Linked DNA regions of Homo sapiens. The protein of the gene in region 4 binds, or shares a complex with, the protein of the main gene of each other region. Each region holds a gene or a part of one and is shown on either strand. Other genes may lie near its edges. The genes, in order: PPP4R2, PPP4R4, PPP4R1 and PPP4R3A.

Region 1 (7,212 bases), on a different chromosome or scaffold from region 4:
CCATTGAATATAAGAATCTAACTACACCAATCATTTCAGTACAAAACATGCTTAGTGAATACATAAACACCGAATATGGGGTGGAGGATTGGGAATTTTAAGTCCTCTTCTACCAGGATAAAATAACTGTCCAAAAAAAATCAGATAACTTCCCCAGCCACTTGGTGTTCCAGTAAGACAGGATATTAAAAAGCTATCTTTTAGAAACTTTCAATTATTTATACATTTATAGGCAATGTACTTTATCAAAAAGGGAAAGCAGTGTGTACAAACCTGATAAACTGAGTAAGACGTTTTAAGTACTCATCTCCAAATAGTTTGATATCATCTTGTATATCAAAAAACAGCCAAAAGTAAAATGCTATTTGGCTTGACATTGTTGACAGGGCTAAGTCTGTGCCGACTAGCAATTCAAGAGGAATAGTGGCAGTCTAAGCATTTATGTTTTAGGGATTAATTTATTTTTGAAAGATGGCATGTGGTCATTTTTAGGCTTATCTATATAAGCACAAATTAACAGTTTTACATTGTTCTAAATCAAGATGTTCTATATGAAACCCTAATGCGAAGGTAAAAATGACTTCCCCCGCCCAGAGGGTCCCATTTTTTAATGTAATAAATAGAAATACAACATTGAACACATCACACTGACGTTCTCAAAATGACTGGTGTATTTTAATAGAATACTAAGGAGACTCAGCTTGCAGGCATGACCATTAAATCAAGCACTGAGGCAGCAAAGGTTTTTTTCTTTCTAAAATTAGGCTAGTTGTTAAAAGGCTAGACTACAAATAAGCAAATCTTGTGAGAAATGAACACTTGCTAATAATAAAGCCAGAGAAATTATACAATTCTTGCTGAAAGCTACACTCATACTGGGCAGATAACCCACTTATTAACATTGAAACCATAGAAACCTACCCCTTTCCTGCTGCCCCAGCCCCCACCCAAAGACTACAAAAAGAAGTCATCAAAGATGCACTGTTGTCTACAAATAAACTTAGCCAGATTGTGTCTACCACACAAACTGCAAAACAATGACCTGGAATGTTCCTTCTGAACACAGCCCTAACTTTATAGCGTAAGTTTCAGATTCAGAACATTTGGAAACGAGCTGAATAAAATGCTGAGCATATGTAACAAGTCAGCTATCTTAGAAAGTCTACAAGTCAAAACTGTAGCATCTGGAATTTGTCAGATAATAACAGAGTCCTCCAGACGATAAATAGAAGTGACACTTTAAACACCTACATATGCAAATATGACCAAAAAAAGGCTGGACACACGACAATATGAGAAAATACCACCAAGACTCTGAAACAGAATCAAAGCCACAAAATTCTAGGAATAAGCCTATTTGTTATGGCCAAAAAGGGTCATAATGGAATAGGCATTCTTCCTTTCTCTGGCTCGTTAAGACTAATACATTCTCTAAGCGTGCCAAAGCCTAGCTATAAAGAAAATTTTAACATACACAGGTTTTTAAAATCCGTTACAGACCATGTATAAAGTAAGTAAGCGTATACGTTCTTTAAATGTAAATATATAAATTATTTAAATGACCAGGACTTCTACAATTTAGAATGAATTATTTAATTATCCCAAAATATACTTTTTTCCCTTTCCTGAGCAATTCTTAATAATGCACTGGTCTATAACGACAAATGCATGTTTTCAACTCACATTGTTTCTCCAGTCTTGGCTACATGACAAAGAAACTGATCCAGGACAGGACAAACTTCCTTTTTCCCCCTCTTCTCAAAATCTAGATGAAGGAAGAAAAAAAAACGTTATCAGTTTTCTCAAAAGCGCTCTAAAAACAAACTTTCCTCCTAGTCCTTTACCTTATTAAAAATCAATTAAATACAAAATTAAAAAAATAAGGCCTCTCAACCAAATTACCACCTCAATCCTCCAAGTTCTACTTCCAACATGTCACCCTCTTTACAGATAACAAGAATCCTCCTAAAGGGGGCACTCAACTTCACAAACCATTTTTAACGCAGTGCTTCTCGAAGTGTGGTCCGGGGGAACACCAGCATTATATTAAGCTGGGAATCCAGTGAAAATAAAAATCCCCAGGCCCCGACTCCCACCAATTGTTCATCTAAGTCCATAAATCTGCCTTTCTAAGAAGCACCAACTACCCCAAGTTGCCGTCCCCAAATGATTCTGAATGTCAAAGAATAATTCTCAAAACGCTGAAATCTCTCTACTCGAAGTTTGTAAGCCACTGTTCTCAAGCCTGTTGCGTGGAAGGCGTGCAATCAAGAACAGTGAAGGCAACCACCTCGAAATTAGGGCGCGGAAAGATGACTTCAAAAGCCCTGAAAAAGGCATACTGAGACAACTTAAAAGTTGCGATGCTACCCCCTACCCCCGCCCCCACCAACCGTTTACTTTTTCTCCCACCCCAACGCCTAGCGTACGGGTAGCCTGGTGGAGAAAAGAGGATATCTGGGAGGGAGGGGTCTGCGGGTCCGCCACTCGTCCCCTGAACGGGTGGGAGAAAGACTGGGGCCCCCGCAAGAGTTTCCCCGGCTCCCCTCCCCCAGCCCAGACGCCGGCGGCCGACACAAAGCCAGAGCGGGGCGGGAGAGAGCTGCCCACAGGGCTCCCCGCCCCTGGGGAGGTGGAGGGGGATGGGAGCCCGGGAAGCACTCTCCCCACGCCGCGCCCGGCCCCGGTCCTCGGAACCATCCGCCCTGAAAGGAGAGAAGAGCGAGCCGGAGAAGGTGAGGGGGAATGGAGAGGGGGCAGCTACCCCCACCTTTCAGCGCCTCCTGGAGCCTCTCGACGTCCATGGCTTCCCGGAGTCCCTCACAGCCTCCGCCTCCCTCCGCGGGTCTCTTGGGGACCGGAACGCCTCCCCCCACCCCCCCGACGCCCTCCCCCTCCCTCGCACACACTCCGGCACGCAGGCGACCGGGGGGGGGAAACGAAGGGAGCCGGGGGAAGCGTGCGAGAGAGCAAGACCGACAGAGCGAGCACCTCCCCAAGCCGCTACCACCAACCCTCCAACATGGCGCCCGGTACGTCACCGCGCGCACGCTCCCTGCCGCCGTCCTCGCTCCCGCCGCGCGCTCCGGCCCGGAACCCGAGAGCGCGTGCGCGGCCGAGGTGTGACGCTGGGGCCCAGTGGCGTCTGCGTCCCGGCGGCTTCCAGAGCCTCAGCCCCAGCCCCAGCCCCAGGCCCAGGCTCCGCGGAGCTGAAGACTGGACGGTCAGGCGAGAGGGTTGCAGGCGGACTCCTAGGCTTTGAATCCCTGCCATTTCCTCTCTGTGTGAACTTAAGCTACTTACTTCGCCTGTCTGAGCCTCATTTTCCCCATCTGTACAGTAAGGGCACTGGTACTGATGCCCTATGCAGTTGCTGTGAGAATTCAGTGTATACACTTCACGTTCAGAATGCGCCTAAAAAACGTAGAGCGAGGCCGGGCAGGGGGCTCAGGCCGGTGATCCCAACACTTTGGGAGGGAGGCCGAGGCGAGAGGATCGCTTGAGCCCAGGAGTTCGAGACCAGTCTGGGTAACAAAATGACCCCGCTCCCTCGCCCTTCTCTATATAAAAATAAATACAGGCCGGGCGCGGTGACTCAAGCCTGTAATCCCAGCACTTTGGGAGGCTGGGGCGGGCGGAGCACCTGAAGTCAGGAGTTGAAGACCAACCTGGCCAACATGGCGAAACCCCGTCTCTACTAAAAATACAAAATGTAGTCGGGCGTGGTCGCTCGTGCCTGTAATCCCAGTTACTCGGGAGGCTGAGGCACGAGAATCGCTTGAATCCAGGAGGCGGAGGTTGCAGTGAGCCGATATCGCGCCACTGCCTCCAGCCTAGGCGACAAAGCGAGACTGTTTCAAAAAAATAATAATAAAATTAACAATACATACATACACTAAGCATTGCTAATAATCCTAACAAGAATACCTCCCTGCTTAACCCAACGTTCGTTCGTCACTGGCCCACCTGTGGCAAGAAGTAATGTATACAGCAAAGTCATTAAGAGCTCAAGGTTTGGAATCAATATTCAAATCCCAACTCAACTACTTACTCCTTGTGTGGCCCTGAAGTAGTTACCTAAACTCAGGCAGCTTCAGGGTTCTTATTTATAAAATGAGGGTTGTAAAACGGCCACGAGGATTGAGTGAAATGGCAAATGTGAAACATTTGGCACAGTGCGTGAAACCTGGAACACTCAACGTGGCTGGGTTTTTATTACCACTGTTAGCATTATTACATGACATAATCTCCCAGGAGGTAGGAGAGGGCGGAAACCTCAGAAGTCCTCTGCAGCCCTGACATTTTACAAATGGGAAAGCTGTGTCACAGACAGCAAGTCTGGGGAGACAGAACTAGAACCCAGAACCCAAATCATCTGGCTCCCAGCCAGTGCGTGGACATTTTTATACTCATCTGTGAGCTTTTAAAAGAAAAGGTACTGCCCGGGCACGGTGGCTCACACCTGTATTCCCAACACTTCGGGAGTCTGAGGCAGGCGGATCACCTGAGGTCAGGAGTTTGATACCAGCCAGGCCAACATGGCAAAACCCTGTCTCTGCTAAAAATACAAAAAAAAAAAAATTAGCTGGGCTTGGTGGCGGGCACCTGTAATCGCAGCTACTCGGGAGGCTGAGGCAGGAGAATCCCTTGAACCCTGGAGGCTGAGGTTGCAGTGAGCCGAGATACTCCAGCCACTGTACTCCAGCCTGGGCACGACAGAATGGGACTCCGTCTCAAAAAAAAAAAAAAAAAAAAAAAAAAGAGAGAGAGAGAAAGAAAAGAAAAGGTACTGCGTTGTTCCACCTCCTCTTCCCAAAACCCAGCATAGCACAAAGTCATGGAAGGAAGGAGGGGAGAGAAGGACCAAGGGAGGGAAGGAAGGTTATTGTTTGGTCTAAGAAGATGCAAGTTTGGACACAGCCTTTACACTGTTGACCCTCTTAAAAGACAGTGGGTCTGACCCTGATCCTAGGTGGTAGATGTAGGCAAAAGACATTCACACCCAAAATAGCTCTCTCAAATTGTGCCATCAGAGAACCAGTCCCCTGTGTCTTTAGACCTTCGTTGTTCAGAGCATCTAGCTCAATTACAAATATCCTTGCAGAGAGAGGGAATAGGGTAGCACATCAAGCACTTGGCCAGCACTTGCCAGGCACCAGGTTTAGTTTATCCAGGTCCCTTCCAGTCTGAAAGGGCCTACTGCCTACATGGCAAAGCTTAGCCTCTCCTTCTATCTGCCACTCTACTATTCAGAAGGGTCTCTTACTGTAAGAGCTCTGCTGTACAGTAGATATTAGCCATGTGTGAATATTGAAATTTAAATTAATTAAAATTAAATAAAATTTAAAATTCAGTTCCTGAGTTCTTCAATAAAAATCCAATTCTTTTTTTTTTCTTTTTTCTTTTCCTTTTTTTTTTTTTGAGACGGAGTCTTGCTCTGTCGTCCAGGCTGGAGTGCAGTGGCGTGATCTCAGCTCACTGCAACCTGTGCCTCCCGGGTTCAAGCAGTTCTCTGCCTCAGCCTCTCGAGTAGCTGGGATTACAGGCTCCCACCACCACGCCCAGCTAATTTTTGTATTTTTAGTAGAGACGGGGTTTCACCATATTGTCCAGGCTGGTCTTGAACTCTGGACCTTGTGATCCACCCGCCGCAGCCTCCCAAAGTGCTGGGATTACAGGTGTGAGCCACCGCCCCTGGCCTAAAAATCCAATTCTTTGGTCACACCAGCCACATTTTAAGTGCTCAGTAGCTACATGTGGCTAGTGGCTCCTGTATTGGATAGTTCAGATAAAGAAAATTTCATTATTGCAAAAAGTTCTATTGGAACTTTCTGTTGGAGAACACATTATGCTAATTTCTAACACTGTTTTGTCCCTTTCATTGCTGTCAGCTTAACTGAATTTCTTATGGTTTTTCAGATCCCACCTGGTCTTCAGATAATCAAGGCTTGTGCCCCTCTGGTTAGCTCCTCCTCTCCAATGCACTTTGCTACATTCCTCTGCAAATTCAGATCTCTACTTAAACACCACTTCCTCTGGTACACTTTCCACGATTCCCTTAGGCTGTCATTGCTGTGTGCACTTTGTCGCCCGTCATAGACCTTATCCAGTGTCTGGAAGTCAAGATTACAAGGGGAGAAGAGGCAAAAGATGAGGCTGAAAAAATAACTTCGTTTGGTTCATTCCTTCCTTCTTCCTTGAATTCTTCTCCAGCCGGCCTGTATCACAATGTCTGCAATTACTAGAGCCTCCTACTGGCTGGGCATGGTGGCTCACACCTGTAATCTCGGTACTCTGGGAAGCCAAGGCTGGAGGATCACTTGAGACCAGCCCAGCAACATGTCTCTACAAAAAATAAAAAATTACCAGGGGTAGTGGCGCACACCTGTAGTACTAGCTACTTGGGAGGCTAGGAGGATTACTTGAGCCCAGGAATTTAAGTCTGCAGTGAGCCGGGATCATGCCACTGTAATCCATCCTGGGCCACAAACATAGTGAGACCCTGACTCAAAAATAAAAAATAGAATAATAAGCCTCCTACTGATGCCGATTTCCTGGGAAGAAAACAGAATACAAATGTGGCAACCAGCCCCCACAATTACCCCTCATGATCCTCACTTGCTGAGATTCATGCCCTAGTATAATCAGGCACACCAAATCACAGCTGTCTGTGTGAAGGCACTAGGGCTTCTGCCTTGGCCTCTTGAATTGGTAAATGGGGCCTCAATGGGGGAAGCCAGCTGCCATGTCATGAGAACATTAGACAGTCTTGTGGAAAGGCCCCACAGAGAGAAGAACTGTCCTTGAAGGTGGATCCTCCAGCCTCAGGAATTCCTTCAGGTAACTGCAGCCCCAGCTGACATCTGGATCACAACCTTAGCAGACATCCCACACTAGAGCAGCCCATCTAAGTCACTTCCCAATACCTGATCCACAGAAACTGTAAAAGGTGACAATGTCTATAACTGTTCTAAGCCTCTAAATTTTAGAAACTAATGCAACAAATAAGAAATTTAATAGTAACAGCTAATATTTATTAAATACTTTCATGTGTCTGGCATTCTCCTAAGCAGTTTACAAAACTATCAAAAAGTGTCTCCTAAGCAGTTTACAAAAGTATTTAATTGAATCCTCACAAAATCCTATGAGGATCCTCCTCACTTAACAGAAAAGAAAACTGAAATATAGAGGCCCAGCACAGTGGCTCACGCC
Region 2 (7,000 bases), 2.7 Mb from region 4:
GCACCACTGCACTCCAGCCTGGGAACAGAGCAAGACCGTGTCTCAAAAAAAAAAGAAAGCTATGAATTTTACCACTTGGTATGGTGAGCCCTCTAATTCTTAATGTCAATACTAAGAAACTACTGCACAATTCAACATTACAAGACTGGGAACCAAGCAGTACAACTCCCACTTTTTACTGGGAACTAATTAGTTATAATTTATGATAGAACTCAATCTTCCTATGTCCCTGTGTCTCACTTAGCTACTTCTCAAGAGGGAGCGTTGGGATGAATTAATTGCTCATGAAAATAAACATATACACACACATGCATATACATTTATGATATACATATGTTATAATATGATTACATTGATAGTTACATAACTTGACACATTATTCAAATATGTATACTCATTTATTTTATATTGCTTTATATATTATCTTATTTTATAGATTAATTTTAATGTATTTTATTATTCTATATTATGAAATTATTTTGTACTACAGAATTGTATAGGCTTTTTTAAAGTAATAAAACACTATGCTTACAAGATGAAAACTTTGCTCAATTCTCTCACATCACATTATGTTATTACGCTTTCAGAGGTCTTTTCAATGACATTATATGGGTCACTTTTACATTGATGAAAATATTTCACTTTTTATTTTCAAGCTTTTCCTATAGATCCCATGAGAGCATTCTGCTTTCTACAGATGTCACAAAGAAACCTTTCTGAGTGTTTGGTAAGTAGGAAAAAAGACACAGATGCCTCCCATGGTTGTTCTCATAACAAAAGACAAGGAAACAGAGATGGGAAACAATCTCCAAACCCTTTATATTCACAGACCTCGTACTTTTCCAAAACAGGGAATTCAAGGTTTGCCAAAGACTTCAGTAATTTGGCCTTAGCAATAATGGAAGGTATACAGCTGGAATCCATTATATACTGCTCTTAATATATTAAACAGTGATCCCTCTGTCCTAAAAAATACAAATGAAGATGCCTGCAATTTCCATGTAGAAAGGCAAGTCATTTGTACATCATCTTCACAGAGGATGACAACGTGGGCAATTTTTTTAATGAGGACCTCTTAGAATCATTAAAAGCACAGGGACTGAGAATAGCACTCCCATAAGCAGGTAGACTCCAATATCCACTTTGTTTCTCTTTTTCTAAGAAAAACTAATCACACAACATGCCTCATCTCCTAAGAGACAATCTAATAACTGAGAGTCTTCTAACCAACAGTGTAGCCAAGTAAAACCTTATAGAACTCCCCTTCTTGTAGGGAAAGAAAAAAAGTTAGATGGTGTAAGTCATGCACAGAGAAACGAAACATCTAAAGGCTATTAACTAGGAAGTTCATTATTGATATGCTAGAAATTATGTACTAGAAGTTTGTCACTTTTGTTTCCTAAAAATATATAGGCTGGGACCACTCAGACACTGCTGGCAGAAGTACAAACTGGTCAAAGCACACTGGAAAACTGTTTAGCAATATCTTTTAAGCTGGACATAGGCATATGCTATGACCAACAATTCGGCTTCTATAATGATACCTAAAAGAAATGCACACATGTATTCACCAAGAGACTTGTACATGAATGATTATAACAGCATTATTCATAAAAGCCCCAAACTGAAAACTAAGCCAAATGTCCATCAGCAGTGGAATGAATAAATTGTGGTATATTCACATAATGGAATAGTATACAGCAATGAGAATGAACAATCTGTTGCTCCATGCAACAATATGGATAAATCTCTTTTTTAAAATATTGAGCAAAAGCAGCTATACACAAAAGGTACACAGAGTGCTTCCTACTATATAAAGTGCAAAATCAGGTAAATCAATGTATAGTGTTAGAAGTCAGTAGAGTAGCTACCCTTTGCAGGAAGTACAGGGCACTGGGACAGGAATACAAAGGAAGCTACTAAGCTAACATGATAATGTTCTATGCTTTAATCTGGATACTGGGTACATGGGTGTGTTCACTTGTGAAAATTCAACAAGCTGTATTATGATTTGTGCACATTTCTGCATACATTCAAAGTTCGCGTTAAAAAATAAAATATAAGCTTATGAAAGTACTTCTTTAACTGATATTCCAAATTCATTACTTTTTTAAATCTATAAAGGCAAACAAAGAACAAACCAGACCATGGGAACAAATACAACAGAGAGACAGGAGAGGAATATCAAGAATGAAGCAAGATCATCACAGAGCACACTTGGAAAGGAGATGGTATGTATCTCTCTCAAACAAAGGTGTTTGAGATGTGACAAGATGTTAAAAGACCTGATTAAGCAATACTCTCTACTCCCTTGCAACTGCAAGCTGAAAGCTCGTCGCTAATAGGCTACTCTCTGGAAAGCCCACAGAATTCCACTCTCACTAATTGAGTTGTAATTAAGAGTCAGCTAAGTATGTTCTCAAACTAGTTTATTTCAAATTTCACTTGCTGTTGCAATTACATAATTTAATTAAATATTACCTAAATATATGAACACATATATTTGTTTCTATCAAATTAAGTTAAAAGTTTTAGAAAAACTAAATTCAATAAACATAAGTTGTCAAAGAAAATTGCTACTAAAGTATGGAAGAACAAAACTTTTAAAACACAAGTAGAAAATCATAAAAACCTAGAACCATGCTTTCAGACTGCTTCATAAGCAAATTTAAATTCTTGTTCAACTTTAAAGAAAACTGAACTTGATATTGTAAATGCATTATGGGGTGATTTATGAAAGAAGGAGAATTTCAAACTTTAATCAGCAGACCCATACTCAAAGAAAAGATCATGACTTCACATCAAAAGATTGGCAAATGAAAATATATTTATAGTTTACATTAAAATTTGATGTTGAAAATATGTAACATTTGTGATTTTATGATTCTAGCCAATTGTTTGTATTAACTAACCAACTATCTATCTTAATTGTGAAGAATGCAAAAGTCCTCTCCTGTGTATCACTAAAGAAAACTGAGCAAGCAATACTGGTCACTCAAGACCACCTATATACACATATACACATGCATGCACAACACAAATGTGATCTCTCTCTCTTCCTCTCTCTTTCTCTCTCTCACACACACACATACACACACACACAAACCATGCCTCACTAAAACAATACTGAAAGGAAGCAAGCATCAAAAACAGAAATCAAGACAATAATGAAAGTAAATGTGGGGACACACGTCATAAAAAGGAGGGCATTCAAAGGAGTTTTTCACACAACTTTCCACTTTGGGATAGCAAATAAGATAGGTATTTTAAAAGAAAAACAACCAAAAGCTAGGTGAGTAGCAAAGCTTTAATCACTGGAGTTCTTCCTTACTGTCTCATTGCTACCCTATCCTAGTCTTGAACCCAAGAAGAAGTACGCCAGAGTTCTCACATGGTACAACACTTGTTTATTTCCACTGATTTGACTGCAGAAATCTCACTCTTTCATATCACTAGGGGGAGCACTTACTCTTTAAAAAATAGGAAGAGAAAGTTAAAAAAAAAAGTTCCAAATAAAGATGCACTTTATGATCGGGGGCAGTGGCTGTGGAGGTGGTGTGTGCCTTCTGTAGTCCCAGCTATTCAGAAAGCTGAGGTGGGAGGATCATTTTAGCCCAGGAGTTAGAGCACTGTGACCGTGCCTGTGAATAGCCACTGCACTCCAGCCTGGGAAACACAGTGAGACCCTGTCTTTAAAAAAGAAAAAAGAAAAAAAAAAAAAAAAAAGCAAAGCTCTTTATCTGACTGCCCTGGGAAAGCAAAGTTCAAAATGCTTTAAAAGTCACAGCACAAAGTGAAAAATATTTTTAAAGTCACAAGTGACTTTAAAAGTAAGCAACATAAAAGCTAGTCTCAGTACATTAACCAATCAATACATTTAATGCATAATAGCAAATATTACTTAGGGTCATTTGGTAAGAAAATATAAATCAACAGGCTGACCTTACTATTACTCAGTTAAAAATGCTTAATTATGATTTGTGAAGATTCTAATTTCTGATAAATACTATTAGCAAACGAAGTTAATGGATATCTATCACAAACTTCAGTTGGTATACTTTGTCCGTTTATTAAATTATTGGAAGGCAAAATTAATACCATTATCCTCTTTTAAAGTTTTAAATGTAACTTGAGCACCTAAGTAGCAAGGAAGTAGGGAAAGGGAAAAGGAGACAGAAGGGAATTAACAGTAACGGGATGCCTATTATGTGCCAGGTGCTTCAACCACACTGGGAAAAGGGAATGATTATTTCCACTTTACAAATGAAAAGCAGGGCTCGAAAACCATAACTAACTTCACCACTGTCACATAGATAATAAATTGTGGAACAAGATATGACTCATAATACCTAAAATCAAAAATATCAGAAGTTCCTTAATTCATCTGGCAGTATGGTCATCTTAAATACTCTTTATTCCATTAAGAGGCATATATTTATATCACAGCGAAGAACAAGAAAGAACAACAACAAGAAAGCTTGCCCTTGTCCTCTAAAAGCTTGTCCTCCAGGACCTTACAATCTACTGAAGAAAACATGCACACACAGTTAAGGAATGTAAATCAGTGATTAATGGCCAATTGAAGAAAGCGCCACTAAGTGATAACGGAGCTCAAAGAAGCCTGGGATCCATGTGGTTTAAGCAGTTAGAGAAGACTTTATGAAAGATGTAAGATTACAGCTGGATCCTAGAGATGGTGTATGTTGGATAAGGATATATTGAAAGAGTACTCCAGGATGAGGAAAAGCAAAAATTAAGGATAAACACAATGAAACTGAGTAACAGTGAAAAGGCCAGCATGACTGAATCAAAAAGTGAAGAATTAAGTGGAAACAACCCAATATCCATCAACTGATGAATGGCTAAACAAAAGCGCTATATCCATACAGTAGAATACTACACTGCAATAAAAAGGAATAAACTACTGATAGCTGCTACAACATGGGTGAACCTTGAACACCTTATGCTAAGTGAAAGAAGTCAGTCACAAAAGGCCATATACTGTATGATTCCGTGTTTAGGAATCTCCAGAATAGGCAAATCCATAGATACAGAAAGCAGAATAGTGGTTCCCAAAGGCTGAGAGGGTTGGTACTGAGGAGCAACTGCTAATAGTACAAGGTTTCTTTTGGGGGTGATGGAAATGTTCTAAAATTGATTGCAGTGATGGTTGCACAATTCTGTGAATATACTAAAACTCACTTAACTGTACAGTTTAAATGGGTGAACTACAAGGACTATGAATTATATCTCAGTAAAGCCATTTTTAAAAGTGAGGGACTGGTGGGACATCACATTGCACAGCTAAGATAGAGTCACCTATGGAGTATTCTGAATGCCAGCCTTCAGGGTCTACACTTTATCTGGTAGACAATCAGAAATATACAAGTAAAGATTTACCTAATGAAAGCACAGTATACATACTTAGGATTCTTCTATAATAAAATCACTCACATGTTTTAAGTACATTCCAAAAATATACGCAAAATCACAAAGAAGAGAAAAAACAGGAAAAAGATAAGATATGATTTTGACTAAGACACAAGCTGTGACTATTAGGAAAGTTGTTTTGCTTCAGTGCTAAATGCCACAGATGGGTATATCAGTATCGCACGTATGCAAAACCACAAATTCATCTGTGTCAAATCTTTGAAGACTGTAATATTCTAAACTTAATTGTGAAAATGTCATTAATAACTGACATGTCATATTTCAGGGTAAGACAATGAACAGTATAATTTGTTTTTTATCGATGACAGTACTCTATATATAAAATGCTTTTTTCAGATACTGGATTCAATCTAAATGCTATCAGAACCCCACTAATATAAAGCATTGCTTACTGATGCTTACACATCTGACTTTGAATTCTAATTTAACATAATACTCCAAAATAGTTTCAATACACAAAATAAAAGAACTAAAGAAACAAACCTGACACATAAAAGCAGAGAGAAAATATATATATAACATGTTATATATTATACATTTATATAATATTCAATGCAGAGGAAAAGGTAAAGTGCTCAAAAATAAACCTGAAAATCAATGACAGACGGAAAAAAGGACTCAGCAAAGTACAAACTAGAAAAAAAGGAATAAATTACATCTACAATAGCAGGCTCAATACATGAGAGAAGATGAGAAGGCCTAAACAGAGGCAAAGTTCAGAACATCTCTATGAAACAATCCTGTCCCCTCCCCTGAATCCCAGGGAAGAAAGACCCTTTCAGGCATTCTTGGCATCATCCCTCCCAAAGCTGGACTAAGGTGAAATCCCACATTCCCCCAGGAGGTGGTAAGATGGTAGGGATACAAAAGAAGAACTCAGTTGGAGAATCCATACATAACCAAACCAGTGTTCCCCTTGTGAGTCACCTTGCAAACCTCCTTCAAGGTAGGTGAGCCACAAGAAACTAAAGGAGATATTGAATCTCTTTTAAAATTCTCTTGTCCAAGAATGAGAGGGCCCATCTGTCTCTTTAAGGGCTTTGTAAATTCCAGAACTGAGCGAAACTGATGTTGAGTCTGAGAAATAAAGACAACTCAGACAACCTAGTTTGCTAACAAACAATAAAAGCAAAATAGAAAACAAATAAGCTTTCCTTAAAAAGAAGCCTTATCACTGATATTTAGAATACGGTGTCTTCTATCACAAGTAAATAGAGCAAGACTCTCCATTTCCTAATTCTAAGCCAGTGTTTATACTAAAGAAAAGAATTCAGTAGGAATAAACAGGAGTTTATTTCAAATCATTAACTGTTGTAGATTAAAACACATTTGTCCACACTTTCATCAATTTTCTACCTACTTTGAGTAAAAGAACTGTGGGAAAAGGCAAATGTTGACATCTATTGTTCATCATAATAAACATGTTAATTGTTAAGGAATAAAGTATTCCAAATATAACACAATATGAAAATGGGTTAAAAGTTGGATTATTCTCTAAGTAAACACCCAAAACACATACCGTTGAATTCACACATAAATAGAAGTTTTC
Region 3 (7,664 bases), on a different chromosome or scaffold from region 4:
GTTGCATTCTCGGGGCAGTGTTCAGCTCCTGTAAATGTAGAAAGAACAGCCTGAATCAGGGTAACTCTGTATAGAGCTCAGTTCTGTAGGTATTTTTCTTCTCTTTTTTCTTTTCTTTTCTTCTCTTTTCTTTTCTTTTCCTTTCTTTCCCTCCCTCCTTCCCTCCCTCCCTCCCCTTCTTTCTTTCTCTCTTCTTTCTTAAGCACAGTGTGAGAAAATGTCTCTTTAGCTGATGTGAGTAAAGAGATCAAGTATCTTTGAAAAACTATGAAAGCTCTAGGAAAGGCTAAGGCTTCACATTCAGAATGTCACCTTGACAGGGAGCTTTAAAGGGAGATAGAAGAAGCATAGAGAGGAGGACAAGTAAAATTTCACAAATATACAATTTTTTTTTTTTTTTGAGACAGTCTCGCTCTGTCACCCAGGCTGGAGTGCAGTGGCGCGATCTTGGCTCACTGCAAGCTCTGCCTCCTGGGTTCACGCCATTCTCCTGGCTCAGCCTCCCGAGTAGCTGGGACTACAGGTGCCCGCCACCATGCCTGGCTAATTTTTTTGTATTTTTAGTAGAGACTGGGTTTCACTGTTAGCCAGGATAGTCTCGATCCCCTGACCTTGTGATCTGCCTGCCTCAGCCTCCCAAAGTGGTGGGATTACAGGCGTGAGCCACTGCGTCTGTCCTTACCTTTATACAATGTATAGAAATGTATAGGAGGCTTTAGGTAAGAGACTGGCAATTAGTTTTTTTAAATTGTTCCTTTTTTTTTTTGAGACAGACTCTCACTCTGTGTCCCGGACTGGAGTGCAGTGGCATGATCTTGGCTCACTGCAACCTCTGCCTCCCCGGTTCAAGTGATTCTCCTGCCTCAGCCTCCCTAGTAGCTGGGATTACAGGCATGTGCCACCATGCCCAGCTAATTTTTTGTATTTTTAGTAGAGACAGGGTTTCGTCATGTTAGCCAGGCTGGTCTCGAACTCCCAACGCCAGGTGATCTGCCCACCTCAGCCACCCAAAGTGCTGGGATTACAGGCGTGAGCCACCACACATGGCCTAAAAATTGTTCTTCTTATTTGAAAATGAGTTTATGAGGGACATTTTGTCAATCTGGCTTCAAAAAAGATGAATGAAATGAATGGTAAAAATTTGTTTAACGTGCTCGTTTCAGCAGCACATGCACTAAAATTAGACTGATACAGAGAAGATTAGCATGGCCCCTGTGCAAAGATGACACGCAAATTTCATTTTAAAAAAGCAAATAAATATTTGTTTAAAAATCATTTTTAATCATGTAAGTATTTCTCCATTTTTCAGACTGTTTCTCTTTTCATCATTTAAAACAATAAATAATAGGGCTGTCCTTATATACTTTCAGTTTCAGGAATGATAATTCTGAAGAAAAAAGTGAATGGTTCAATCACCGATACAAAAATTAACAAACATGATAGTGGCAAGCAACATCAGGTGGGTTTTGTTTATTAGCGATGTTTTCGCCATTTTTTTTTTATGTTTGTTTGTGGTTGAAAAGCCAGACACATTAATTTCCAAGGCTCATTGGCTGCTAAGAAAAATTGTCACTGTGGCCAGGCACAGTGGCTCATGCCTATAACCCCAGCACTTTGGGAGGCCAAGGCGGGCAGATCACCTGAGCCCAGGAGTTTGAGATCAGCCTGGGCAACATGGCAAAACCCCGTCTCTACGAAAAAATACCAAAATTAGCTGGGTGTGGTGGCGCCCACCTGTAGTCCCAACTACTCAGGGGGCTAAGGTGGGAGGACTGCCAGAGCCTAGGAGGTGGAGGTTGCAGTGAGCTGAGACTGCACCACTGCACTCCAGCCTGGGTGACACAGCAAGAGCCTGTCTCAAAAACAAACAAACAAAAACCCTTTCCTTATCATTTGGAAGAGGACTTATTCTTAAAAATGCAGGCCTTAGTACTTACATAGTTGGATGATGCTTTTAGGAAAATGACTTGGGACACTCCCCCTATATTTTACACATTTCAGTGGCAGAACAGGATAACAATTCAGACTTCCTGTGTGTCTGACCACGGACAACACACAGCTCTGCCATCCACGAGCTGCATTGTAAGTGAAGCTGGGTTAAAGGTATGTAGAATAATGATTGCTATTATTTGTTTAAATATTATTTCTTAGAAGAAGGGGACAGAGTGCAGTTTGTAAACACTGGTTTAAAAACTCCTTTCTTTTAGAAAGGAGAGAAAGTGAAATGTAAAAAACACATATTTGTGCTGAACCATGAATGATACCGTCACTGAAATATCTAAAAACCATATTGCTTAAAGGCACTTCTTGCAATGTGTAATTCAGCTAAGATGATAATCAAATGCATAGCTCTTGAATACAGAAAAATGATACAGATCCTCCTCCTTTGCTGCCCTTCCCACAGAATACTGAGATAAAACTTACTGAGGCCTAGCTACCAAAGGCAGAATTAGTTGTTCCATATCCTAGGCTAGCATTTGGTACATAGTCCCTATTTTATCATGATTACTGAGAACTGTTAAGTCTAACTCAACTGTGTAGATCAAGACAGTTTTGTCTTAGTGCATCCAGCGGCTGAAGCACAGTTGGCACGCTGTAGATTTTGTGTTGTTGCGGTGAGACCACCAGTTAGAATAAAGAGCTGATTTGGGCCGGGTTTGGTGGCTCACACCTGTAATCCTGGTGCTTTGGGAGACCAAGGCCAGAGGATTGCTTGAGGCCAGGAGTTCAAGACCCACCTGGGCAACACAGTAGAACCACGTCCCTAAAAAATTTTAAAAATAAATTGGCCAGGTGGAGTGGCCTGTGCCTTTAGTTCCAGTTACTTGGGAGGCTGAGATGGGAGGATCTCTTGAGGCCAGGAGTTCGAGGTTACAGTGAGTCATGATTGTGCCACTGCACTCCAGCCTGGGCTACGTAAGGCAAGACTGGCTCTAAAAAAAATTTGCTTTTTAATGAAAAAAAAAAAAAGAGCTGATTTGGCTCTTTCTTCCCCCATTTACCCAGAATTGCTAAAGTGGTAGATACTGACAAGGTATCTTAGCAGGGCAGAAGTCTCATGGTTTGAGTCAGTTGGGACCAATTGCTGTTGATGTGAATTTCTAACTCCTTTGTCATTCTGAGTGTGTCAGCTGAATTCACATAAGGGCATTCACCAAGGGAGGAAGAGAAAGGCCTTTAGTTTTAATTATTTTATAGTTGAGAAAATTAGACACATACTCGGGGTTACGGGGTCTATTCTGATTTTTATTACTCCTAGAAATTTCATACAGATTATAATCTGTCTATCTTGTTAGTAATATCTGACTGAATTTTTTGGAATAGCTATGTGTAGAACCCATTTTATTACACAGATTTAGGAATCTCAGAGGATCTGATTCCTTAGTCTCTTAAATCTTCAGTGGCATTAAATGCCAACACATTGTCCTTGGTCAAGACTACAACGTAGAAAGGAACAAGCTAATTAACTACTTAGAATTCCCTCTCCTAAGAGACCACATCGCCAAAGTGGCACCATGACACAGCTTGGTGTTTTGTTGGTCACTTTAGGAGAACACCATTTTGGAGGCCTTGGGTGGAGCTGGAGATAGAGCCATGGAGGTAGAATCGTGTCGGAAAACCTGGGTTTAGCCCCATTTTGTACTTGGGCGTTTGAGCTAATCGCTTAAGTCACGTAAAACAACAAGACTAATAAAGTCTGGGATACAGACTTTAACACCTCAAGTGCTGCCAAAAGTATTTAGAAGACAAAGCGAATCATAGGCACCCTTCACCGAGCACCTCCTAGACATCAAGAACCATGCTAGGTTCCCTACATTCTTCATTTAATGCCAATAACCCCACGAGGCAGTTATCACCTTCATTCTACAAATGGGCCCCACTCCTACCAATTAACTGGCTGAATCAGGATCTGACCCCGGGCCTGCCAACGCTCCCGCTGGTGGATTGCCCGCCTTGTCAGCTCGAGTTGGCAGGACGTGGGAGTAAAAACCCGGCGCCCCAGCCTTCACCGTGCTGCACGAGGAAGCTGGCTAGGCAGGCATGACTTTGTCAGTCAACCATCCCGCAGCCGGGCCCTGGGCTTTGTTAGCAGCCACTTGGCGAGGGCCCCGGGCGGGTGGGGAGGCGGCGCTTCCTCCAAGAGGAGGTGGGACCCCGGCCCCGACGACCTCGGAGCCGCCCCCGGCCCCGGATCGCCGACGACGTACGTGCAGGCCTGGGGATGGGGCGCTGGCTGCGAGCGGCGCGCCCGCCGAGATGGCTGCGGCTGGCAGGGCGGTGGGCGAGGCCGGTGACCCAATAAAGCGGCCGGGCCGCGGGAGGCCCCGCCCGGCCGGGTTCCGGCACTCGCCGCAGGGTCCCGGCCGGCGGCAGGTTGCGCGCCCCCGTCCGCAGCGCTCGGCGTGAGGGCGGCTCGGGAGGAGGGTGTGAGCGCGCGTCGCCGGGCCGGGACCCGGCAAGCAGCGGGAAAGGCGGGAGGCGGGAGCGCCGGTCGCCCGGGAGCCGCGCGGAGGGGCAGGCGGGGCGGGGCGGGGCGCGGCCGGGGGCCCGGGCGGCCGGGAGCCGCGCCGCCCGCGGCAGGCCCGGGCCCTCGGCCCGCCCCGCGCGCGCGCCCCCGCCAGCCCGGCCCTCCTCCTCCCCGCCGCCCCTCCCGCGCGCGTCCACCGGCTCCCCGGCTCGCGCCGCTCCATGTAGCCCCGGCTCCCCGGGCGGCCGCGGAGGAGGGGGCGACCACAAGATGGCGGGTACGTGGCCCCCTGTTCTCCGGGCGGCGGCGGCTCCTCGAGCCCACCCGCCCTCCGCCGCAGCCCTGAGTGGCTGCCGGGCCGGGGCCGGCGTGGGGTCCCGGCGCGGGAAGGCGCCCCCGGGGCGGGGGGGAGGCGGGCGGGGGGGGGGCGTCGCGCCGGGCCCCGGGGCGCTGACCGGGCCTTTCTTCTCTCCCCTCGGCGCAGACCTCTCGCTGCTTCAGGAGGACCTGCAGGAGGACGCAGACGGATGTGAGTGGCCCGGCCTCGCGGTGGCCTGGCAGTCCGCGGGGAGCGGCCGGGGAGGGCGGGCGGCGGCGAGGCCTGGGCCGGGCCCTGGCTGGCTGAGGGGACGGTGGGCGAGGGCGGCCCCAGGCGGGCTGGGGTGGCGATCGGGGGGGAAAATCTCGCGTCCGTGAGGAAACGGCGCGCCCAGGTTCCGCTGGGGGAGGGAGACGCCCGGAGTAACGCCCAAGTTCGCTTTCCGCCCTTCGCTCTCTTCTCCCGGCGCCCCCGAATCGCCTGCGGGCTCAGCAGTGGCGCGGCTGTTTTGGAAGGAGAAGCGGTGGGGCAGGATTTGAAGTGGGGTTTGGGTGTGTTTCTGCCCCTGGTGTCCCCTTCCCCCGTCACTCTAGGAAGGAAGAGGCTCGCGCGGGAGGTGTGTTTCCTTAGAGTCGCTCTTCCAGGAGCGCCCGGGGGTCAGCCTGGGCCCCGGCTAGCCGTCTGGGCTCCCCGACCCGGTTTTGGATTGTTTGAGGATGACATACCTGTCATTTTACTTTGGCTGGTAGCAGTTTTCAGATGCTCCCGATTTGATTAGTGGATTACGAGAAGGTTAGAAGGTGTGGCCTCCGCAGGAATTACTAGGTTTGGAGAGCATATTTCTTTAATGCGGATGTTCAGAAATCACCCAGCCCTCCTTCAGTGTTAACAGTGCAGCTTTCCTTTGAGGTACTGAAGTTTTTAAAGAGTTGACGCTTTTATTTTTAAAAAGACAAAGTTTCTGACATTTCCTGATGGCGACGGAATTGATATTTAGAAAGGAATTTTTCGTCTTATATGTACTTTTCTAAGCCTCAGAAAATAATTTGGGTCACGATAGAAAAGACAAAAGAGTTAAGCAGGTTTGTATTGAAAGAAGTGACAAATTGCAGTTAACTTAAAATAGTTTCTATTCTTGCTAATCTTCCAAAATAGCGACCCATCAAAAAATCAATAGGTTTTGAGATGCATTTTAAAAATGCAGAGTGTGCAAAATATATAAGCGAAGATCATGGGATACATAAGGGACCAAGAAATTGTTCTGAGTTGAGATGATAACCATAGTAGGATTGTGGTCTGTTTAGTGGAAAGCCTACCGGATGCTGAGATTGACTGTCTAGTACCTGTATAAGTAATTTCAGAGATGGCTGCAGTTTGAAATTACTCTTTTAAATACTCTGTAGTTAATCCTTAGCATTGTCTAATGTGGTTCCCTTACTCAGAGTAAACTTAATTTTTAGATTCCTGGTTGTTTTGAGTAAAGTAAGGGGGATTTACTATTTAGATGGATTATCTGAAACGAGTAATTTATCTTTAAAGTAAATGAACCACATCCAAACTTTTGCTAAGTCTGTGTTTTTAGTGAGGTGGCTCAAAACAGCTCTCTTAAAGGGAGCAGTACTCATGTAGTGAAGGGCAGCTTTAACATTTTATTTAATGTTTACCTTAAGCCACTTATCTGCCTAATAGTAAGTTTGAGATATTATTTAAGGCATCTGTTGATTTCAGATCTCTTGCCAGGTTAGGATTGGAGAAATGGCCCTGATTATGTTACCTCGAGGAGGGCTTTTTATATTTATGTTCGACTTCGTAAATAGAAGATTCATTTATTCAGCAAGTATTTATGACTGGAGCAAAAACTTCTCACTCCTGAAGGATGAAATGCAGTCTCAGTTTCTTCCTTAGCCCCCAAGAAGCACAGTGTAGAGGGGAAGGCATACCTGTGAAAAATTCAACCATGAGTTTCAACACTCTGCCAGGTACTGGGGATGGAGCTTTGAGAAAGATGGGCACAACCCATGCCCTCTAGTGGTTTACAAGCAGTTTTGAATCTAGGTGTACAGTACAGTATTACAGTTACCACTGGAGCCAGGCTGCTCTGTTTGTCTTAGCAGTGTCTTTTTGGGCAGACTTGGGCAACTCACTTAACCTCCCTATGCCTCAGTTTTGTCATTTGTAAGTAGGCATAAGAAATATTACCTACTTCATAGAGTTGTTCAAGGCTGTACATGAGTTAGTGCCTCTGAAGCACTTGGAACAATTCCTGGTAAACAGCGATGATTATGATTATGTTTGCTGTTATGAGAAAAGAGCAAGGGAAGCTTAAAAGAAGAGCAGAGAAGGAAACACTGATGTTGAACCTTACAGAATGAAGGTACTTAAAGATGCTGCCAATGCTCGCAACTAAATTTTTTTTTTTTTTGAGATGGAGTTTCACTCTTGTTGCCCAGGCTGGAGTGCAAAATGGCGCGATCTCGGCTCACCGCAACCTCTGCCTCCCGGGTTCAAGTGATTCTCCTGCCTCAGCCTCCCAAGTAACTGGGATTACAGGCGTGTGCCACCACGCCTGGCTAATTTTGTACTTTTAGTAGAGACGGGGTTTCTCCATGTTGATCAGGCTGGTCTCGAACTCCCGACCTCAGGTGATCCACCTGCCTTGGCCTCCCAAAGTGCTGGGATTACAGGCGTGAGCCACTGCGCCCGGCTGCAACTAACTTTTTAAAGATTCTGTTTCCTGTGCATTTTAATTTAGGATAAAACAGACATTGAAGGCACAATAGTTATTTGCATATTCATAATTTGGTTGAAGGCTTTGTTAGAGTAATTGCTTATTTTTCTCAGTTACTAAAGTTTTTACAGGTGATACCTTTACCCAGA
Region 4 (6,885 bases):
AACCCAATCTCAAAAAAAAAATCTATACATATTATATATACTATATAGTATATATACTATAATTATATATACTATATAGTATATGTACTATAATTATATATACTATATAATATATATACTATAATTATATATACTATATAGTATATATACTATAATTATATATACTATAGTTATATATACTATATAGAATATATGCTATAATTATATATACTATAGTTATATATACTATATATTATATATAGTTATATATACTATATATTATACATACTATAGTTATATATACATGTTATACATACTATAGTTATATATACTATTATATATACTATAATAATATATACACGGAAAAAAATTGCTTATATTAATTATGCAGAAAAGCATACTTCTGATAGTACGACATTAAACTTTTATACTTAAAAATATCTTAAAGGATTTTTTGTATAATGAATCAAATTAAACACATGATGTGAAGGTTATATGTATTATTTTTAATATGGATTTCAATAAATTGATCTCAAATCTACATATGCTTTCAGCTGGGATGGGGGTCATGCCTGTAATCCTAATACTCCGGGAGGCCGAGGCGGGTGGACTGCGTGAGGTCAGGAGTTTGAGACCAGCCTTGGCAACAGGGCAAAATCCTGTTTTTATTTTTTTGAAAGTAAAAAATTAAAAAGAAATCTACGGATACTTTCATCTCATAAGAAGCTGATACAAAAAGTCCATACCTTCCAACATACTATGTAAAGTTTTCCAAATGTGTGAAAGATCTAGAGTAGGTTATTATGTGAGTCACATACAAAATTACACTAACACTTGACATTCAAATTGTATTTTAAGAAGCCAATAACTCAGGCCCAGAAAAATACACCCAACATTCAAAAATTTTTAAATGCCTCCAAAAGAAAATAATTTCTCTCCAGATTTAAGTTACTTTGGGTAACCTTATAACCTGTGGGCAATATACTCCAGATTACCACTTTCAATTTAAATAGAACATCAATATTCCCAGAGTCTTCAATTACAGAAGGGCTAGTCTTGTTGGTTTTTCATGGAATTGGAGTTCTGGGGAGAGTCCAATTGAAGAAAATTCCTTGAAATTAGTTTGCAATAATTCAGATACAGAATCGCTACAATCATAATAAACTGGCATCGTTAGCAACTGCAAAATATAAACTAATGTACAAAAAGAAGTGGAAGATAACTTACTTTCACGTTTGGAAGTAACAATTTGAGAATAGTTTTACCCCACTTGAGTATTTTAAGTGAAATTCACTGTATATCGCCAAAAACAGTGGCAATCCCTACAGAGAATAAGCCTTTTAAAATATGAAACAGCACATGTGGAAAAAAGAAAAAACGTGAAACACTTATTTTCAAACAACTTAGTCTTTGAACCTTGAGGGCTGTTTCAAAATTTGTGAAGCATAAACACTAGGGAAGATCCGAAAGGTTTTAAAAATTATCTGCCAACTTCTCTGCACCTGTTAACCAAATTATGAACACCCATTTAAGCAATCAAAAAAAGCTCATATGATTCCAACTTTGCAAGATGTTTATATAGTAAGCTACACACAAAATTCTGCATTACTATAAAAAAGACAACCAACACTGGTGAACGAAAATCTTCGCAAGGGAAAGCGTTTTCTCTTAGTGTAGAGTTGCCAGATACAGTGTTGCCAAGCTTCAACACGATCAGAAACATGTAGCAAAAAGATGTTTAAAAAGAAAAACAAAAAAAGCACAGCAAAACGTTCTTCAAAGTGTGAAAGGTCCAAGAACTTTCTTAGCTCCAAGCAAAGTTTCATGCCTGCTTTACAGATGGGTGAACTAAGGCAGCAGATCGGATTAATCAGTGTCTTTCTCAAGGTCACTCTAGTGCAAAAGAACAGCACACTCCGGACTCCCTATCTCAGGTCCTCGACCTCTCCACACTCCAGGGCGGCACAGCTCAAACACGCTTGGCTCTCCTCGTACCCAAAATGCCACCAGGCACTCAGAGAAAGGAAACATTTCAAGCGCTCTCCGGGGAGCTCCCGCAAGACTGGGGTACCTGGGGCCCGTCCTCCCCCGAGGTGGCCGCCCTCCCCAGCCGTCCCTCTGTTCTCGTGGAGCGAGCGCCATGCCCCGCAAGAACCAGGGAGGCGGCCCAGGGCCGTGGGGGCTGCGAGGGTCCCGCCGCGCGGGGCTTCACTTACCGTCGCTCTCAGCCCTGACAAGCAGGGACATGCCCTTCAGCCGCTCCACGTAGCCAGACGACACATGCCCGGTGCCCCGGTCGTCCCACTGCCGGTCCTCGTTGAGCGTGTACACCTTCACCCGCCGCCGGGTGTCGGTCATCGTGCCGCCCGGGAACCGGGGCGGGGGCCCCGCCAGTAGACGCCCAGGAAAGGGGCCCTGGAGAGGCGAGGGGCGAGGCGTGAGGGCGCCCGCGAGCGGAGGGCTCCCCGGCCTCACTGCCGCCGCTGGGCGCCGCGGGGCCGCGCCGCCGCCTGCATGGCCCGCTCCAGGGACCGAGCTCTGGGCCGCCGCCTTTCCTCGCCTCCGGCTCCCCGGCGCTATTGTCCAGGCCTGGCGAGCCCGGCGCCCGGCAGCCCCGAGGGGGCCGCGCAGCGCTTCGTAGCCTCCCGCCCCGCAGCGCTAGGAACTCGGGGCTCCCGTCACTGCCCTGCTCCCGCCTCCGCCATGATCTCCGCGAAGCAGCTTCCCGCGCCGCCGCCGCCTCCTCAGGCCGCCGCCGCCGCCGCCATATTTTCCTTCCTTATACCTGGCCCTGCCACCGCGGCCAGTGGCTCCCTTCCGCTCCCCCTGTTTTAAACGTCAGAAGCCGACAGGCGCCTGATCCTGCTGCAACTGCTACCACTGCCCGGGAGACTCTGAGGGCCCCCGGCCGCCCAAGCGACCCGGACTAGTGGAAGTCGGTTTCCCTCCGCCGCCGTCTCTTCCGTCTTCCTCACACAGCCAAAACCGCCGCCATCTTGGTTCGCCCCTCAAAAGCGGCGCGCGGGGCCACCCAGGGAGCAGCTGCAGGGGCGGCTCGTAGCCCCACCATTTAAAGAGACAGCAGCGAGACCGGGAGCCTTACTGCGGCGGAGGCTTCCGACGGAGGCGGGAGGCGGGCGCGGAGTTGCCGAGGTGGCGGGAGCGCAGGGAGCGGAGGAGGCGGGACGCAGATTGCGCCGGTGACAGCCCGAGGCTCCCTCCCGCCTCCTTGCACGCACCGTCGTGCGAGCGCTGGGCGGTGTGTGCGTCCGTCGCGCCCTGTGTTCGTCATCAGCCCCGCTCCAGGATGCACGAGGGGCGTGGATACGTTTGCGGCCTCTGCCCGCGGGCCCCGGCGCTTCGGCCTCGCCTCCGCCCGCCGCCACCTTCCCTTGTTCCTGCCCCGTCCCTGCCTCTGCCCCTGCCCCTGGCCTGCGGACGCCGGGCAGCGTGGGCCTGGGCCCCTACCCGCTTCCGAGAGCGTTTTCCCGGGGCCGCCTTTATGGCTGAGTCGGGCGCTCGGGACCCACCCGGCGCCTTGCGGACTTGAGGGAATGAAATGGAAACGCTTCCGGGGAAGGTCGCGGGTGTGGGCGCCTAGGTCGGCGCAGCCTTGGGAGCCGCCGTGGGTCGCGGACTGGCGTGGCCAGTGTGGAAACTTGGGACTGTTTGCGATTTCTGGGCGTGGGACCGAGTTCCAAGTGACAATTCTAAAACTTCACCTTACAGCCTAGGCAAGCCCCAAGTGCTCCATTCCTTCATCCCTATCAGAACTGTCTGCCAGCCTTTCTTGTCGGAAAAGGAACTTAAGGCGCTCACAAAAACAAATGCGACACTGTGTAATCGGGAGGAGTAATTCTCAGCATTAGGTAGTCCTGTGTTTTGAAGACCTACTTGATGTCAAGTATTGTTGATCTTCACAAAGGAATATCATTCTCGTTCCTATCATGCAGCTCATATGCCACCATTTTGGTGGCTTTTACCATTTGCCAGGCCTTGCCAGGTCGGGCTTGTCCGCTCGGAATATAATGCAGCCACACACATAACTTTAAATTTTGCAGTAGCCACAAAAAGTACGAAGAAACTGGTGAAATTAGTGTTAACGTTTTAGTGCGGTATTTTCAAAAGTTATTTCAATAATCAAATTACTAATGAGATATACGTACAATGTCTTAAAAATGTGATATATTTTGTCCTTCCAGCAAGTCTCTGTTGGGATACTAAATTTTCATCAGAAATATCTACGTTTAGATTTTATTGAAAAAAAATTTTTTTTGAGACAGGGTCTCTCTGTCACCCATCCTGAAGTGCAGTGGCTCAGTCTCAGCTCACTGCAGCTTCAACCTCCTGGGCTGAAGCGATTCTCCCATCTCAGCCTCCCAAGTAGCTGGGACCACAGGTGCGCAGCACCACTGCCAGTTAATTAATTAAATTTGTTATTATTTTTTTTTTTCGGTAGAGACGGGTTTCACTGTTGCCCGGGCTGGTAGAGTTTATTAAATTTACAGTTGAAAATGTAGATTCACATATTCTGTTATTCCAATCATACTTAAAAGTTTTCCAAAAGCTGAATCAAGTATCAGTTTTTAAATTTAGCTGGGCGCGGTGGCTCACGTGGTCAAGGAGTTCAAGACCAGCCTGGCCAACATAGTGAAACCCCGTCTTCACCAAAAATACAAAAAAATTAGCCGGTCATGGTGGTGTGCGCCTGTAGTCCCAGTTACTCGGGAAGCTGAGGCAGGAGAATCCTTGAACCCGGGAGGCGGAGGTTGCAGTAAGCTGAGATTGTGCCACTGCATTCCAGCCTGGGCAACAAAGCGAGACTCTGTCTCAAAAAATAAAATAAAATAACAATTTAAATTTAAAAATTAAGTAAAATGAAAAATTCAGCTTGTGAGTTGCACTAGCCAAAATTTGAAGGCCTGGTAGCCACATGTGGCTAGTGGCTAGTTTTGGAAGGTTCGAGTGCTTGACATTGCCAGGAATCTTTTAAACTTGCAATGTGGCCGGGCGCAGTGGCTCACACCTGTAATCCCAGCACCTTGGGAGGCTGAGGCAGGCGGACTGCTTGAGGCCAGGAGTTCGAGACCAGCCTGGCCAACATGGCAAAACCCTGACTCTACTAAAAATACAGAAATTAGCCAGGTATGGTGGTGTGCGCTTGTAGTCCCAGCTACTTGACTGTCTGAGGCACGAGAATCCGCTTGAACCTGTGGAGGCGGTGAGTGCAGTGAGCCGAGATTGTACCACTGCACTCCAACCTGGGTGTCAGAGCAAGACTCTGTCTTAAAAAAAAAAAAGAAAAGAAAAAGAAGAAACCTGTAAAGTAACTGGTGTTACACCCATCTATTAGGAAGGAAGCTAATAGCATGAACAGGGCTGAGGGGTTTCTGGGATACAGGACTTTCAGTTTTAAAATCCTTTAGAAGTTGGGACCTTCCTCCCCAACAACTTAAAATATAAACAGGGCGCGGTGGCTCACGGCTGTAATCCCAGCACTTTGGGAAGCCGAGGCTGGCGGATCACGAGGTCAGGAATTCGAGACCAGCCTGGCCAACATGGTGAAACCCCCGTCTCTACTAAAAATACAAAAATTAGCAGGGCACGGTGGCGCGTGCCTGTAATGCCAGCTACTCGGGAGGCTGAGGCAGGAGAATTGCTTGAACCCGGGAGGCAGAGGTTGCAGTGAGCCGAAATTGCACCATTGCACTCCAGCCTGGGCAACAAGAGGGAAACTCTGTCTCAAAAAAACAAACCAAAAAAAAAACGATAGAAACGAGTGCTTGCAAAGACCAGTCGGAAACTCATTGTTCACAAACAAAACTGGAAAATTATGAAAACAAAGCAGTCGCTTTTTCTTTAAAAAAAAAAAAGGCAACAATTTATTTACGTATTTTGAGGTGGAGTCTCCTTCTGTCACCCAGGCTGGAGTGCAGTGGCACGATCTCAGCTCACTGCAACCTCTGCCTCCTGGGTTCAAGTGATTCTCCTGCCTCAGCCTCCCAAGTAGCTGGGATTACAGGTGCCTGCCACCACGTCCAGCTAATTTTTGGTATTTTTAGTGGAGACGGGGTTTCACCATGTTGGCCAGGCTGGTCTCGAACTCCTGACCTCAAGTGATCCATCTGCCTCAGCCTCCCAAAGTGCTGGGATTACAGGTGTGAACCACCACGCCTGGCCAACAATTTCAAGTATTAGGGCATGAGAGCAATTTTGTCAATTTTTGATGCAATGAAGACATCAGTAAATTTATTCATATGCTAATACTTATTTGATCCCCAAACCAAACATGAAATACTTTGTAGAAAATAATAAAGTAAATTAAAAAGAAATTATTTAGTATATGGAATAAGGTTAAAAATTATAGTTTATGGAACATACCATAAAATATTAGATTTAAATGAAATTTAATACAATACAATCTTAACAGTTCTATGAGTCTAGATTCTACCAGAGAAACAACCAGTAGAATACATCTACACAAGGATGGAGAGAGTTATCTCAAGAAATTTGTTTGCATGATAGTGCAGTCTGGCTAGGCAAGTCTAAAGTATGTAGGACAGGTTAGCAGCAGAGGGGAAGCTCTGAGGCAGGAGCTGACACTGCAGTCAACAAATTCTTCCTTGGAGAAATATATTTGCTCCTTTTTTTTTTTCTTTTGAGACAGAGTCTCACTCTGTCGCCCAGGCTGGAGTGCAGTAGCACAATCGCAGCTCACTGCAACCTCTGTCTCCCCAGGTTCAAGGAATTCTCATGCCTCAGCCTCCCAAGCAGCTGGAACTATAGGTCTGTGCCACCATGCCTCGCTAATTTTTGTATTTTTAGTAGAGATGGGGTTTCACCAAGTTGGCCAGGCTGGTCTCGAACTCCTGACCTCAAGTGATCTGCCTGCCTCAGATTCCCGAA

The links.
Region 1: PPP4R3A (region 4) and PPP4R2 share a complex: the UniProt entries of both Homo sapiens proteins name them as parts of the PP4 complex.
Region 2: PPP4R3A (region 4) and PPP4R4 share a complex: the UniProt entries of both Homo sapiens proteins name them as parts of the PP4 complex.
Region 3: PPP4R3A (region 4) and PPP4R1 share a complex: the UniProt entries of both Homo sapiens proteins name them as parts of the PP4 complex.

Annotation. Positions count from the first base shown.
Region 1 is NC_000003.12:72,992,630-72,999,841, reverse strand, and holds the start of PPP4R2 (serine/threonine-protein phosphatase 4 regulatory subunit 2), read right to left. Parts: upstream 3,032-7,212; 5' UTR 2,805-3,031; coding exon 2,771-2,804; intron 2,736-2,770; exon of another isoform or gene 2,651-2,735; intron 1,766-2,650; coding exon 1,684-1,765; intron 1-1,683. UniProt on the Homo sapiens protein: Regulatory subunit of serine/threonine-protein phosphatase 4 (PP4). May regulate the activity of PPP4C at centrosomal microtubule organizing centers.
Region 2 is NC_000014.9:94,177,322-94,184,321, reverse strand, and holds part of PPP4R4 (serine/threonine-protein phosphatase 4 regulatory subunit 4), read right to left. Parts: intron 1-7,000. UniProt on the Homo sapiens protein: Putative regulatory subunit of serine/threonine-protein phosphatase 4.
Region 3 is NC_000018.10:9,611,559-9,619,222, reverse strand, and holds the start of PPP4R1 (serine/threonine-protein phosphatase 4 regulatory subunit 1), read left to right. Parts: upstream 1-4,663; 5' UTR 4,664-4,738; coding exon 4,739-4,745; intron 4,746-4,948; exon of another isoform or gene 4,949-4,952; coding exon 4,953-4,997; exon of another isoform or gene 4,998-6,766; intron 6,767-7,664. UniProt on the Homo sapiens protein: Regulatory subunit of serine/threonine-protein phosphatase 4. May play a role in regulation of cell division in renal glomeruli. The PPP4C-PPP4R1 PP4 complex may play a role in dephosphorylation and regulation of HDAC3.
Region 4 is NC_000014.9:91,507,311-91,514,195, forward strand, and holds the start of PPP4R3A (serine/threonine-protein phosphatase 4 regulatory subunit 3A), read right to left. Parts: upstream 3,001-6,885; 5' UTR 2,338-3,000; coding exon 2,196-2,337; intron 1-2,195. UniProt on the Homo sapiens protein: Regulatory subunit of serine/threonine-protein phosphatase 4. May regulate the activity of PPP4C at centrosomal microtubule organizing centers.